Homo sapiens: one gene and its partner. The protein of the gene in region 1 interacts with the protein of each later gene in a biochemical or structural test. Each region holds a gene or a part of one and is shown in the gene's direction. Other genes may lie near its edges. The genes, in order: BHLHE22 and OTUD3.

The links.
Region 2: of the proteins of BHLHE22 (region 1) and OTUD3, one has a biochemical effect on the other in vitro, tested with the Homo sapiens proteins (one study listed by BioGRID).

What each region holds. Positions count from the first base shown.
Region 1 is NC_000008.11:64,575,507-64,583,364, forward strand, and holds the start of BHLHE22 (class E basic helix-loop-helix protein 22), read left to right. Parts: upstream 1-4,858; 5' UTR 4,859-5,284; coding exon 5,285-6,430; 3' UTR 6,431-7,858. Other genes in the region: uncharacterized protein LOC124900252, read right to left, coding at 1,813-2,170, 2,416-2,663. UniProt on the Homo sapiens protein: Inhibits DNA binding of TCF3/E47 homodimers and TCF3 (E47)/NEUROD1 heterodimers and acts as a strong repressor of Neurod1 and Myod-responsive genes, probably by heterodimerization with class a basic helix-loop-helix factors.
Region 2 is NC_000001.11:19,906,395-19,913,922, forward strand, and holds the end of OTUD3 (OTU domain-containing protein 3), read left to right. Parts: intron 1-37; coding exon 38-222; intron 223-1,175; coding exon 1,176-1,352; 3' UTR 1,353-6,551; downstream 6,552-7,528.

The sequences.
Region 1 (7,858 bases):
CGAGGCGGTATGAATTCCTCATAAACTCTTTTCACTAGTTTTGCTCTACCTGCACCCGCATGTCCTACATTGTTCTCTGAGGTTTCAGCAGTGATAATGCAGGCGCTAAGTTATTCGCTCACTGTACGGTCCCCCTGGCCTTCAAAGTCGCCAAAGTGGGGAAAGACCACGCAGGAGCCAGGTGAGACCCTCGCGGTGGGCTCGGGGACTTGTGTGTGCACCTCGCGCTGAGAAGGCTGCCTCCCGGGGCTCAGGGTTTGTCTTCAAGGTCTGTTCAAATTTAGGCTAACTCGTCCCCAAACAGTAGTGAGGACCAGTATGTTTTCTGTAAAATAGATACAGACAAGGAAAATCTTTTCGAAAGAACGCTATACGAACAAGTTTCAACTTTCCCACAGTCGAAATTTTTGGAATTGCCAAGCAACTTGGAAAGACTAGCAAGACGGGGGGCCCTTGGCTCACTGCCAGGAATGCGCCAGCTCGCGCTAGTCCCCCAGCGTCGTCACCCTCGCTGTCCTCCTCCTCATGAGCCCACACATGTGGACCCAGTCTCTCTGAAGTGAGCTTTGTAGGACTCGGCGGCGAAGGGGACGAGAAAATACAGATGACAAAACGACGCCGAAAGGCTTGACCTCTGGGGCTAATCTCTCTGCCTCCGAGTAGATCCCGCGCTCCCAAATCCGGCGGGGGCGCAGTATGGTGAACCCCACACCTAGCTCCCTCAGCTGCGTGGGTTTCAAGCTGACCCAGGCGCCACCAGGCAGCCCCGAGTGGGCGAGTCAAGTGCAACTTCAAGGTCAATGTGCCTCTGACTGGGGCCTGGAGAGCTGCCAAGAATGCTGGGCTTGGAGCGCTGGGGTCGCGCCCCGCTACTGCGCCTTGGACCCCGCAGTGGAGGGCGCTGAGACCGCACCCCCCTCCCCGGGCAGTTTTCAGGAGAGGGTCCAGCTGGGGTCTCCGCGGTGGGGTCCAGAAACGATATTCCGGGTTGGATTCTTCCTCGGTTGGGGAAGCACAGCTGGCGGAGAATTCCCACGGCTCTCAGTGGATTCGCTTTTCCAGAGCTGTTCTCAAGCAAAGTTGTCATTTTTGCCAAACTTTGTTTTTACTTTTTAGACTGTTCTGAAAGAGATAAATTGAAAAACACAGAGAGACAATTTTCCTTCTCAGAAGATACACATAGCTACCCAAATTCAGACTTGTAACTTTTCAAACTAGTGAAGTAATAAACTATTTATCAGTACTATAAAAATAACAAAGACGAACTTCTGGCTTTACTCTTTAGAGTAGATTATGTTCCATTCTGATTTTACTTGGGTTCCTATCTCAAATTTCAAGCAAATATCAAGATGATCATTAAGAAATTTAAATAGTACCTAGAAATTAGTTTGGTCTGCAGCTCAATGCACTAATTTCAATGCGGTGCTGTCTGCTGAATATTTTAAACTCCTTTCAAAGCAGTAGGTGTATTCCCTCCCGCAGTAACAAAACGATATTCATCTTTACACAAGGTGCTCTGGCGTTTATAATTTGGTATCCAACACCCGGCCGAGAATGTTCCCTTTCCTGATGCTTTGGCCAACCGGCCTCGATAAGCCAACCAGCCCAGAACCAGGGGCGCTGGGCTGGGTGTTCCTCGGGGACGGCGCCCACTGCCCGCTTGGTCCCTGGAGTGTCCCGAGCTGCCTCCCATACCCCTGCTGCGGACAGAGTGGGGGCAGTCCTCTGCCTCTGTTTCCCAACTGCTTTGGTAACTCAGTGACTCTCTGTGAAACTGCAGAGTCAGAGGACTTCCCTTCCGTAGTTTTCATTCTAAGCGGTCATCTGTGAGTCAGAAGATTTCGCCGTGGCCTGATTTCCCACCCTTTCTGCCCGCGCAAGCCGAAAGCGCTCATGTTGGCTTTTCCTTTGCCACTTTTCCAACTTGCCAGTTCCATCAGGAGCCCGGATCCTTGCCCAGCTTCTTGGCGGAGCCAAGTTCGAGCGCACAGATTTCCCGAGCTCCAGCGGCCAGGGGGCACTGTGTGAGCGGCTGACGTCACCCCTCCGCCCGGCCGAAACCAGGCGGCGGGATCCCACACAGTTGAGGAGAGGGAGCCGAGGCCGTGACTTAGGGCTGGCGACGATTAAACCAAGTAACGAGACACCGGGCAGATGTGTTTTCATTGCCCTGTAAGATAAATGCAGTGTTAAGTGCCTGACAACTTCCCAGAAGCAATCAGCAAAAGTTTACGAGTGCATAAACCTCAAAGACCATTCCCTATCGGTTGTTATAAGGCCGGTATTTAGAGCTTCCATAAATTCTTCGGCCTTTTCCCAAAGCAAAGTTTTCAGCGACTATTAAGCAGCCACCTCCTCCGGGAAGACTAGGGGGATTTTCTTGAATTACAAAAGGAAGAGGCTTTTGGCTCCTACCGAGTAAAATGAAGTTGTGCAAAAGTTTGTTCCAGAAGCTTGGATGGCCAGGGAGAGGAGGGAGGTGGCAGGAGGTCGTGGAGATGGGGTCGGGAAGGGCCACGAGATGCGCTCAAGTGTTTGTTGCCTAAGGGCGAAAGACAAAGGTCCTGCGAAGATCCTGGGTCTAGCTGAGCTGGCAGGGCCTTTGCCGCCCTCAGTGTCGCCCCTGCTCTGCCATCCCGGCTCTGCCGCTCACAGCCCCGCATGGCACCCCCCACCAGTCCCTGACATGATCGATCCTTCGCCCTTCAAATGTCCACTTCGGGCCGGCAAGAATCCTGGCGCCCCGCAGAAGGTGGCAGCCCACAAAAAGGGCAAGCTGGCTGGAGAACTAAGTCAGACATTGTGAGATGTGTCCCCATCCTGCCCAGAGCCACGACCGGGCCAGCCTCCGCCCTCCCGAAAGTGACCCAAGGACTTTGATAAGTTAGTGTCATGCATACACGACCCACCTATGTTTAGAGAGAACCTTTGTTTATGATCCCAGTGAAAACAAAGCTGCTAATTGAAAAACAATAACACTAGCGTGTCTTTAGCTTTCTAAAGGGAGAGGTTAACAGCTGCGAACGCCGGGGGAGGGACGGTGGGAGGGGTGCGGTGAGCGAGGGGCTGCCCTGCATGTAAACAGCCTCGGGGTCCCAGACGAGACAAGTGGGACCGCTCAAGCCTGCAGAACCCCCGGTCTCGGTCCCAGGCACAAGAGCCTCCCGTAGCCCCGCCTGATCTTTCTCAGTCTTTAGGTTCCAGGACATCCAAAGGAGCGTAGGTAACCGACGTCTACGTAGTATTTCTGTCCCCGGAAGACTGGATCTCAGGGAATTATTATGGAAGATACTGCTGAGCCCCTTTCATCCTTTCCAGGTGAAAATACAGACATTTTTGTGTCGCCCTCACCCTTCCTTTATGAAATAAGGTGCCCAACTGTTCTGATATTACCATTCAAAAACAGGTTCTGTGGCGAACCTCATTTGTGAATCTATTACAGAGATTAATAGATTATTTCTCCTTTTTCAACTAATTCTCAGTGGGGAAATTTAACCATATGGTAAGGAGAGAATTAGAATTTCATCACATTAGAGCAAAATGTAATGAAAAGAGTCCAACACCTGGGGCCAACTCCGAAAGCCACAATTAAAAGGTTTTTAATGAAACCAGAGAAACCAAAAATTGCATAGTCTTCAGTACTTCTGCCATATAAGAAAGAGTTATTGGAAGGTGTTGGGAAATATTGTTTTTACTTATGTCATAAGGATGAAAACCAGCTGCTAAATACCATGTGTACCCAGAGACCGAACTCAGGAGTGAGATGACCGCGTGTACCAGTGCCCATCCGGAGAGGAGCACTTGTTTTTACATTCTCCCTTCCCGAACCCTCCAAGAACAACCGAGGCTGATCCAGATGTCCTTAAATGGCTTCCGGGTAAATAAATATGCATAAATGCCTCACTTCGTGTGGGAGCGGATTTGACTCCTGGTGAAGTTGACTCTTTTGAAGCAATCAGATTTTCATCTTAAGGAAAGTTTGAGAAACCGGTTTGTTTGTTTGTTTTCTTCCTGTTTAGGAAATTGTGTACTTCACAATTACCATCACTGTAACAGTTATTTGGAGACCACTGCAAAATCACTGCCACCCCACCTTAAAAAAAAATGGGCTGCATGATCACTTGCTCTTCATTTTGCTTTTTTCTTTCTTTTTTTCCAATCTGGGTAGGAAATGGGCAGTGGCGGGTGTGGAAACGAGGCAGAGTGTTCGGGGGGACGACTGCTTTGCTCTCTGACCAGCTGAAAACCTAGAGTGAATTTTGGGCAAGCCAGCTGGGACACCACCTTCTCTCGGAAAGTCCCATCCCCAAATCCAGACCAGTCATCCTACGAACAGGGGTGGAGTATAATTCTCGCCCGGAAGGGTAATTTAGCACAAGCTGAGACAGCAGTGGCGAGGGAAGGGCAGTGGGGGGTGGGGTGCGGTGGGTGGGGGCGTCTGCTTTCCACAGGACTCCCAGGCTTCGCCGCCGATCTACAATTTGCTGAAGGAGCAAAGAACATCCTCGGCTCTAAGTAGGGCTTTTAGTGTGCTCATTGATGAGTGAAAGTCGCCACACATGTCAAGCTAAAGGCAGTTGTTGGGTTACTAACAGGACCCAGCGCCTTGCAAACATATGCGCTAAGCTGTGTATACAGATGGCAGGCAGAATAATGGAGCAGGCGCCTTTTATAAAGCTCTAGCTGCTGCCTGTCTTCAGACCTGGGAAATGAAACTATTCAGACTTGCGGCCAGATAGCGCCTGCGATTGTTTGTTACCGTTTTAATCCTATTAATTAAAACGTTAACCTGATTGGGTAGAAAGCGCTGTCCCAACAGGCGAGTCTTCTTCATAATAACCTACTCAGAGATAATGATGTAAAAGACTCCCCCGTCTGTGGCGGCGGCTGTTTGATGGGTCCGGAAATCTCTTGAAGGTGAATCCAAGCAAGATAAACGGTGCGGAGAGGAGGCGCGGGGCTGGGCTCAGAGCGGCGGCGGCGGCGGCTCCACTCCCTCCGCGCCCACCCTCCCACCATGCGGGGCCGCGGCCCATGGTGAGCCCCAGCAGCCAGCACCATCGGCTGGAGACGAAGAAGAAGAAGAAGAGGAGGCGGCGAGCGCGGGGGAAGGCGAAAAAGAAAAAGAAAGAAGGGGAGAGGGCTCCCGGCAGCACCAGGACCGACGCGCGCACCAGCTCCGGAGCCCAGCTCGCGCGCGTCTGTGGGGCCGCCTGACTCCGGGGCCGAGGCGGCGGCGGCGGCAGCGGGCGCGGCGGCCCGGGCTGCGCGCCGGCGCGGGACCATGGAGCGCGGGATGCACCTCGGTGCAGCGGCCGCCGGCGAGGACGACCTCTTCCTGCACAAGAGCCTGAGCGCCTCCACCTCCAAGCGCTTGGAAGCGGCTTTCCGCTCCACGCCCCCGGGCATGGACCTGTCCCTGGCGCCGCCGCCTCGGGAACGCCCGGCGTCCTCCTCCTCGTCGCCCCTGGGCTGCTTCGAGCCGGCTGACCCCGAGGGGGCAGGGCTGCTGTTGCCGCCGCCTGGAGGAGGCGGCGGCGGCAGCGCGGGAAGTGGCGGCGGCGGCGGCGGCGGGGTGGGTGTCCCCGGGCTGCTAGTAGGTTCAGCCGGCGTTGGGGGCGACCCTAGCCTAAGCAGCCTGCCGGCCGGGGCCGCCCTTTGCCTCAAGTACGGCGAAAGCGCGAGCCGGGGCTCGGTGGCCGAGAGCAGCGGCGGCGAGCAGAGCCCCGACGACGACAGCGACGGTCGCTGCGAGCTCGTGCTGCGGGCCGGAGTAGCCGACCCGCGGGCCTCCCCGGGAGCGGGAGGTGGTGGCGCGAAGGCAGCCGAGGGCTGCTCCAATGCCCACCTCCACGGCGGCGCCAGCGTCCCCCCGGGGGGCCTGGGCGGCGGCGGCGGCGGGGGTAGCAGCAGCGGTAGCAGTGGCGGCGGTGGCGGTAGCGGTAGCGGCAGCGGCGGCAGCAGCAGCAGCAGCAGCAGCAGCAGCAAGAAATCCAAAGAGCAAAAGGCGCTGCGGCTTAACATCAATGCCCGAGAGCGCCGGCGGATGCACGACCTGAACGACGCGCTGGACGAGCTGCGCGCGGTGATCCCCTACGCGCACAGCCCCTCGGTGCGAAAGCTCTCCAAGATCGCCACGCTGCTGCTCGCCAAGAACTACATCCTCATGCAGGCGCAGGCCCTGGAGGAGATGCGGCGCCTAGTCGCCTACCTCAACCAGGGCCAGGCCATCTCGGCTGCCTCCCTGCCCAGCTCGGCGGCTGCAGCGGCAGCAGCTGCTGCCCTGCACCCGGCGCTCGGCGCCTACGAGCAGGCAGCCGGCTACCCGTTCAGCGCCGGACTGCCCCCGGCTGCCTCCTGCCCGGAGAAGTGCGCCCTGTTTAACAGCGTCTCCTCCAGCCTCTGCAAACAGTGCACGGAGAAGCCTTAAACACACCCCCGAAAAACACAAGACCGACCCAAAATCTAGAGGAAAGCGAAAAGCTGCTCCCCACCCCCTTTATTTTGGTCCTCTCGTAGTTGTGAAACACTTGCAGAGCAAACAAAGCAGAGGCAAGAACTGAGGAGAAGTATCAGAGACAAACGGGACTTTTAGCCTTGACATCCCCAGAATCTCGGTCTTTGGGGTGGGGAGGGAGGGAGGAGGGAGGTGGAGTTGGGATGGAGTATGGATGTCTTTTTTTTCTCAGAAAAGTGGCAACTTTGGTGGCAGCCTAGACCGCGAGGAAGTGGAATCTTCCTTAAAGGTGAAACATAAGTTGAGAAGTAGTGCTTGGTTATTAAGCCTGGAGAGTGTTTGAATGGCAAAATACTAATCCTACTAATAATTGTGGATTTGGCTAGTGCTGAGGGGGAGAGGAGGGGTTAGGGGTTGGGTAGCATGAGAGATGGAATATTCATTCAGACAAATCAGAAAGGGCACTTGAAAATAAATTTTGATTCTGAGCCAGGAGAAAAACTTGAAATGTTGACTTAAGTGAGGGGGAAATAAAACCCAGAGAGAGAGAGAGAGCGAGAGAGAGAGACATGTTACTATGAAAGACTTGTATTTTTTATTGTCTCTGAACTTTAATCCTGTGAAAATGCTCAAAGTTTTGGCGAGAGTGATATAAAAAAACTGACTGTGGCTGAAAGAATTGCATTTAAAAATATTTATGTGCACCTTGTTACTTTCTACTCTGCAATGATGTATTAACAATTCATGGTATTTATTTGTTATTCTTCAATGACCCTTCCACATCAACAGTATTTATCATGTGTTAAAGTCATGGGTCTTATGTGCAGATTTTTTTAATGCCTCTAAAATTGTTTTATAGATTACTTATGCTGTGTGCCAAGTGTTTAAAGGTTTATTTGCCAACAAGTATGAAGAGAAATATTGATGTATCTGAGCTGCTTAGGTTTATGAAAGGTCACCTGGATATTTTCAGTTGCATCATCCCTGTATTTAAATTGAGCTTTAATAAATTGCTTCAGTCCAAAAATTACAGGAAAGGTGTATTCTTAATTGATGAATGAATTGATCTCTTTTTTGAAAGGGGACTCCTTTACATTCCAAAAGGGAAAAACATCACAGCAATAGTTGCTATACGTAAGAACATGCTAAGCAAATATTTTTCCAGGCTGTGCTGTGCATTTTTAAAAGGTCTAATTTAATTGCTTTTAATATATATGTACATATATGTTATTTTAACTGTGGAGAATTATTTAAGTTAAAAGACTGGTTTGATTTGCCTATGGTGTGAAATCCTTTGTTATTTTTCTAAAAAAATAAAATTTAAAAAGAAAGAAAACTAAGGAAGAACAAGAAGCTATTTACCCAAAGTGAGCTTTCAGTTTTAGTTTTGCATGGCTGTTT
Region 2 (7,528 bases), on another chromosome or scaffold:
AGGTTCTCAGTTTTAATGAAATGTCTTTCTTTGGAAGATGCAGAAGAGAATCTTGAGCCCAGTGGTCGAGTGCTGAAGCAGTGTGGCCCTTTGTGGGAGGAGGGTGGCAGTGGTGCCAGAATCTTTGGAAATCAGGGCTTAAATGAAGGCAGGACCGAAAACAATAAGGCACAGGCCAGCCCTAGTGAAGAAAACAAAGCAAATAAAAACCAGCTCGCAAAGGTATGTAAGATGGGGTTGAATGGGCAGGTGGTGGGCAGGTGTAATTCTGTGGCAGTGGTGGTAGCTTGAGATTAATTTTATTTGTATTTTCCTTCTGATTTATAAAAGTAGTGTGGAAAATCTGGGGAATGCATAAAGCTACATCAAGAAGCAGAATGACCTCACTTATCCTGTTTGGTGTATGCCGTGACAGTTGGAAGGAAATACACCCTGAAATTGTCCTCAGTGTACAAATGAAAAGCCTCCTTTTCCCACCTAACATTACTGTACATGTGGGCTCTTCCCATGTTTATCCATGTTTTTTATAAATGCCATGATCTGCAATGAACACCTTTGTGTATAAATCTTTGGTTTTTGCATTATTTTCTTGAATAAAGTCCCAGAAGAGGAATGAACAGGTTAAAGGTCATGGATACATGAATCTTTTAAAGGCTTTTGGTAAATTGTCACGTGCTTCCCAGAAAGGTACATCTCCCTCCCTGCCCTTCACTCCCACAAGTAGTATGTGACATCTTCCATTTTACTGAATTTGGAATCATTTTAAAGATTTTCACCAAGAAGTTCTGAGCTCAAAATGCCACAGTGTAAAAAGCCACAGCAGAGGCAGAGATGCAATAAGCTTCTGAGGATTTTGTCAGAATTACCTGGGGCATTAAATTATGTGGGGAAAAATGTTCTCTGACACGTTTGTTTGTTACCAACTCTTGCTGGATGAGGGCTGGTTTCTTTAAGAGAAGAATGGAATTGATTTTGTTTGCTAGTTCAGCAAGGAAATATAAATTTAAATGCAAATTTGAGCAGCAGTGGACAGTAAATCATCTTTGGCGTCTTAGATTGGTTTTCCCTGTTCCTGCTGAAAAGCAATCTGTGCCCTTTGCCACCATCTCCCTTCTAGCAGGTGGCAGCTTGAGTCCCCCGTGCTTCCTACTCACCACCATGGCCTTCTCTCTCAGGTCACAAACAAACAGAGGCGAGAACAGCAGTGGATGGAGAAGAAGAAGCGGCAGGAGGAGAGGCACCGCCACAAAGCCCTGGAGAGCAGAGGTAGCCACAGGGACAATAACAGAAGCGAAGCAGAGGCGAACACGCAGGTCACCTTGGTGAAGACCTTCGCCGCTCTCAACATCTGACTCTTTGGCCTCTTGGGAGTTGTAAGAAGCGGCTGGAAAAGGATTGCTGTGTGCTAGACTTTCCAGTGAGGCCGTCCTTTTATAAAACGCAACACAACCAACGAAGCCCACACATGAGCTCACACACTGAGTTAGTTTCGTTCAAGCTGCCTCTTTTTTTGTTCGAAGTTTTATTAGTGATATGTTGGTGTTTTATGAAAATGCAGTGAGGCCATTCATATTCTGTAATACAAAATTAAAATACTGAGTTTTAGGGGCAGATAGTTAGGTCAGGAAAAACCTTTTAAGTGGTGGCTTTATTTGCCCTGAAAATCAGACTTCAGTGACCCTAGGATCTTTCCTTAACATTTGGGGTGAGTTTTGCTGTAATTGTTCATGAGTAGTTTAGAATAATTGTTAGAAATTCAGAATGACAAGTTTCCTTAGTTTCTCTTTCATTCTCAAACAGATATATAGGGTAGCTTATAAATGATCTCCAACTCAGGAATATGCTTTGATTTACTTCTAATCCAAGTTACTCAGAAAATAATTCAGGAATTGTTTTCCCAAAGTTACGTGAGGGTTGTGGCCTGCAGTCAGGATGGAAATTAACCGCATTTCTCTCCTTCCTGATTCTGATGTTATTTCAGATGGGATGCAGGTGCTGTTAGTTCATTTGCACTCAAGCCATATGATAAATGCAGCTGACTGTTAATTAGGCCTGGCCTTGTTGGGAAGTTGATAGTGGTGTTGGGTTTTTGGTATTTGTTTCCTGACAGTGGGGAGATGGCATGTTACTGCTTGTGATACAGTTCTGGAATTCTGATAGTGTGTAGAGCAGGGTCTATAGTTGTAACAGGAGACGAACTCCTGGGGTTTTGCCTAAGAGGAGTCTAAAGAATTATGTTTTTATAGGAGAAGCCTGGAAGAATAAGGTTTTTCATGTTCGCATTTTAAATAACGATTTTCTTCCCTTCTGTTGTAGACTTAGATGCCTTCAGAGAGATACGTGGTAACTTGACCTTATAGGTCGCTAAACTTAGTATTGTGGAAATTAAATCTTATAAAATGCTACATTTATTTCTTTTTATTTAAGCCCTGTTTGGCATTTCAAAGTTGGGAAAACTCCAGCATCTGCTGGAAGTTGTTGGACCAGCAGGGTTGGTTGACTTAGGTTGGACCAGCAGAGAAGAGAACATACTTTGGTTGAGGCCTTCGAATCACTCTTCAGTTCTGAAATAGACAGACTTGAGCAGTGGAGAGACGTCTTTCCTAAAACTGAGTTAGGTGGATGTGAACTTAAGAACTATAACGTATGAGGCAGCCCATCTTGGATCATCTTTGTCTTTTGGGACCTAATACTTGGGCAAATAATTGATGCTGAGTTGAAAGGTAAATTATTAGTTATCTTCCCCACCCCTCGCATTTCAGAATTATAAAAATTCGGAGGCAAATTGAAAACTAAAATGTTTGGTAGGCCCTGGAGTCGCCAGATTGTCTTTATCACCAGGCCTTTGGCTTTCTTCAGTTTCACTGGTATCTTTTGGTTTTGTTTTTGACTTTGGTGGCTTTTTGTAGTTGGAGCATCAGTAGTCTCTTGGAATTGCTCCTAGGACATTGTGGTTTAGGTTTCTTCCTGGGTACAGTACATTGTAAAATTTAGCAGATTAAAAAAAGTACACAGCATTTTTTTTCTGTGCACGTCGCAGAGTCCTGAGCTTGAGGCTGTGTTACTCTACTCATTCCAAACGAATGAAAGATCTCTGTTGCCTTACTCTAAGGAAGTGGGATCGAGTGCGTTAGGATCTATGGTTGTCTTGGTTTTCAACTCTGGGCAGATTCCTGACTGGCTGAGTGTTTCTGAATGAAGATGTTTTCCTGTCTGTTTTGTACTGCTTGAGTGCAGAGGCCAGATCCTCTCAGAAAGATAAGATTGTATGCCAGAAATTCAGATTAGCAGTCAGCTTAAGAGAGACTTATTGTCAGAAGTAGTAGAATTGCTTTATTTACTTGGTTAATGAAGGTGGCCTTGGGCCCTATTGGGTTTTAGAAGTTTTAGAAGCTGCTAAAAAGTTATTAAAGAATATTGGGAACATTTATTTTTTAAATTACCTAATTCTGGTAATAGGCTTCAGCATTTCTGGAGTATAATAATGGTGGTTTAAAAAACTAATCAAACGGCTTTAGTAATTTTACTACTGGTTTCACAGCTTTTCAGTTACAGTTGGTCTGTTTAGTGTGTTAATTATTAGGAATCGGGTACATGCATCCAACTTCAGTGATACCTTCTAGCTAATGGTTTCAATTTAGACTTCACTGCCTCAGTCTCACTGGGTACATGAGAAGGTTGGAATCAACATGCTTAGTTGCCTCAGTGGGCACTTGAAAATTCCTTCACTGGCAGCCCGAGTGGAGGCCCAGTATGTCTAGTCCTGGGATGACTGTTGTCAGCAGCTGTTACTCTAGTACAGGTGCTCCTGTGAACTCTTTATTAGGAACTGAATGTGTCTTAACCTCTGTGTTACATCTTGGCTGGCAGAGATTTATGTTACATGAGATTGTCTTGGTAGCTTGTAGTGTGGTCAGGAGAAAGGGGATGGAGCAGTGGTGCATAGCTGCTTACTGCTCTTATAAACGGTATATAAAGGTTTTACGGATTTTGAAAATATTTTTTTTTAGAGGTCAAAATAAATACCATTTTAGTGGCAACAGCTTTGAACTAGAGAGGTAGATGTATTAAAGCAGCATAGAACCATAACTTCTAGATAATGTAGTTGCCACTAGGAGATATTAGAAAGTTAGAATGTATGTGTGTATTTAGTTTTTCAATAATAATGAACATACACTTTCAGGAGCAAAGTATGGTTGAGAAATTGTGGCAGAAAGAATTTTAAATGTTAGTCGAAGTTGTCTGTAGTTTCTTTATTAAGCTCTGAAAACACTTCCAATGCCAGTTTGATTCTGAGGGCTTGGGAAGTGGGATCTCCCTTGTGGAGCAGCTGGAGCTGGCTGGGAGGGAGCCTCTCCATGGGTAATTTATTATGCCTGCCCTGCTTCCCCCAGGGAGCTGCTTCAGTGTGAAATGATGTGATTGTCGGGGGTGGGGTGGGAGGAGGGCCACCTTCAGTCGGGGAGTTGCTCACATATTACACAGGTAGCATCAGGTGGACTTCAGCGCTGAACTGTACTAGTAGTGAGTCCCTGTAGTCAATGTGCAATTTCTCTAATTCTGAGAAACTCTGTAGACTCTGCCTGGGTTTTACTGGGTCAGCATAGAATGCTATCAGTTTACCTCTGTGAAATATTCAGTCAGTTGAAGGAAACTTGGATTCCTAGTCAGAGGTGACTAAAAGTTACCCTGACCAAAAGGATCTCTGCGGGGGGAAGAGAATGGAGCTTCCTGATTTTAATGTGTTGCGTCAGTGGCCCTCTTCGACTCCCGTTTTGGGTAGATGCGTAGCTCTTCACTTTCTTACCTCAAGGCTCTGTCTAGCCATGTTAAATCTTTAGACTCAGTCTGATGCCGTTTTTCTGTTTTGCCATTCTCATTATTCACAGCTTTCAGAACAAGTGTTGCTAAAACTCCGGGGCCTTTGACAGTTGTTCTGAGGTGATTTAATAATGGACTTTTTATAAGTTATGTTTTCCTGGCTCTAAAGTAAATTTTTTTTTTTTTTTTTTTGAGACAGAGTCTTGCTTTGTTGCCCAGGCTGGAGTGTGGTGGGGCAATCTCGGCTCACTGCAACCTCCACCTCCCGGGTTCAAGCGATTCTCCTGCCTCAGCCTCCTGAGTAGCTGGGATTACAGGTGTGTGCCACCATGCTTGGCTAATTTTTGTATTTTTAGTAGAGACGGGGTTTCACCATGTTAGCCAGGCTGGTCTCAAACTCCTGACCTTGTGATCTGCCCGCCTCAGCCTCCCAAAGTGCTAGGATTACGGGTGTGAGCAACCCTGCCCGGCCAGTAAATTGTATTTTTTTAATGACATCATTGATTTGAAGATCTAGATGGCATAAATTACGACGTCTGCCATCGCATATTAGAAAGGGGACAGTCATATTTGTAACGTGGAGAGAACACGGAGCACCAGTCACCACGTGCACTTAGGATGCAGAGCTTACCGCACACCGCTGATGGGGACCTCCGGAAAGAGCGGTGCCTTGTGGTTGGCCTGGAAGTTCTCTCCCAAGGTGAAATTCCTTTAAAACCTCAGGCTCTGACCTATGTCTTTGAAGCAGCTGCTTTGTAGAGTCCCTCTCTTTACTGTCCTCGTTAGGACTGTTTTGTGGTTCCATGAAAATGTTTAGCATCCTTGCAGAATTACTTGAGAAGGGGCTGGTACCAGTGTAAAGAATCTATTTCTGTAAAACTACGAACTTTTGCATAGGGAATTTATTCTAAGCAGGTCATAGCCGTGATCCAGAGCTGCTGCTGCTCACTGCCAGTCCTTGCGGCTGGCGGCGATTGCCGGACAGACTCTCTGTGGCCTGGCTCTCATCCTTGGCGTGTCAGCCTGCGGCAGGCTGCCAGCCATCCATGACAATCATGTGAGCTCAGCCACAGACCTCAGCTGGCGGTTTGATCCCTGGCAGGTCCCTCGAGCAGTACTGGTAAGAGGCTTCACACATTTTCCCACTCTTACAGTTCATTTTTCATAGTAGGAAGGGCCCTTGGCCTCCCCAGTGCCTCTTCCAGAGCCTCCACCAGCACTAAGCTCAGAGGAAAGAAGAAAAGGGCCAGGAGTCAGACGTCACACCCGGGGGCTCCCCTTTCCCATGTAGAAGTGTTGGCATGCGTCAGTCTCCTTTACAGAGGGGTGGATGTATCCGTGGAGGAGGGGCCTTCTCTCTTTCTAATTGCACTATACTTGTTCTAGCTTCAGTCTGGAGATACTTAAGACCTCCATGGGGTCGTGATCCATAGACTTAGCAAGTCTTGCCTTATCTATGGAGCTCGATGGTGAGAATTGTGACCATTGTCTGATGTCCATAGTTCCTTCCCCCTAGATTGTTTCTTTCCACGGATTGTGTTCATCTGAACCATTTTATTTTTTATTTACCAAAGTACTGTACTTGGCTATTTGCAGTGTTTTCAAAACCAAATGTTTCTTTTTTTGTGTTTTTAATCTTCGATACTTGGTGCAATAGAAGCTGCAAAGATGTGCCACTTTATCTATGAAATGGAGTTTTGTATACCAATAAATTCTAGTTTAAAAACAAAGTTTTAAGTTGTTTTTATCAGTATCTGACCACCGTTTGAGTGAATGCAAGGAGGCTGAGTGTGCTGGGAAATGTCCTTTTTGGAGACCTTTGTGTGGAAGCTTTGCGTGTTTGCGTGTGCTGGATTGAGTATTCTAGGTGTATAATAGTACTTTGGGATCTGACTAAGCTTAGAACAGCTGATTTTTGCTTTAGTGCAGCTAAATGCAGCCACCAAACACAATGGCAGGGTCATTCTTAAGGACTACACACTTAAGATTTCTGCCTGATATCTGAGAGCATCTCTTGATAAGTTTGAAACTGTTTAAATATGTAGCAGTTGTCTGTCAGCGGCCACTTTGGGCTCCTCTAGAACTCTCAAGATTGTTTGACCCCATTCAAGGAGGAGGCTCCCTGCCAAGGCACAGACAGTACCATCTGGGGGCACAACTCACCTAGAAGGGTCCACAGGAAACCAGAGCGAAGGGAGTCCTTCATTGCGTCCAGCAGGGGCCCCATCCACACAAGGGCTCTGGCTCGGCAGACCTCACCATGTCATGATTTTGACCTTGAGACTCCCATTCTCCCATTCTTCATTTTGTATTCAACAAGCAGCCTTCTGAATTGGCTCCCTGTTGCCTTGACACAAAAAAGGACTAGATGGTTTTCTGGATGAAAGTCAAGAATATTCTAGCTTCTGCAAGCAGATTCTCCCACAATCTCTCAAGTGATCTTCTCTGTGTGATTCTTCTTCAGTCCACAACTGAGAGACCCATCATCTCTGGATAGACACACACTGTCTGGTTCCTGAGCCTGTGAGGCCCAGATTCCAGACCCCATTTAACCTGAGATTCTTCCAGGAAATCTGCTATGGTCCAAAGTGATGTCCCAATCCAGGTGCTGCCCGCACACTGGAAAACTTCCATGGCCTCCTTAATCCCATTCCAGGGATTCAGCTGGGGCCAGGTGGCTGCTGCTAGGGATTAGAGGGGCTTCCTG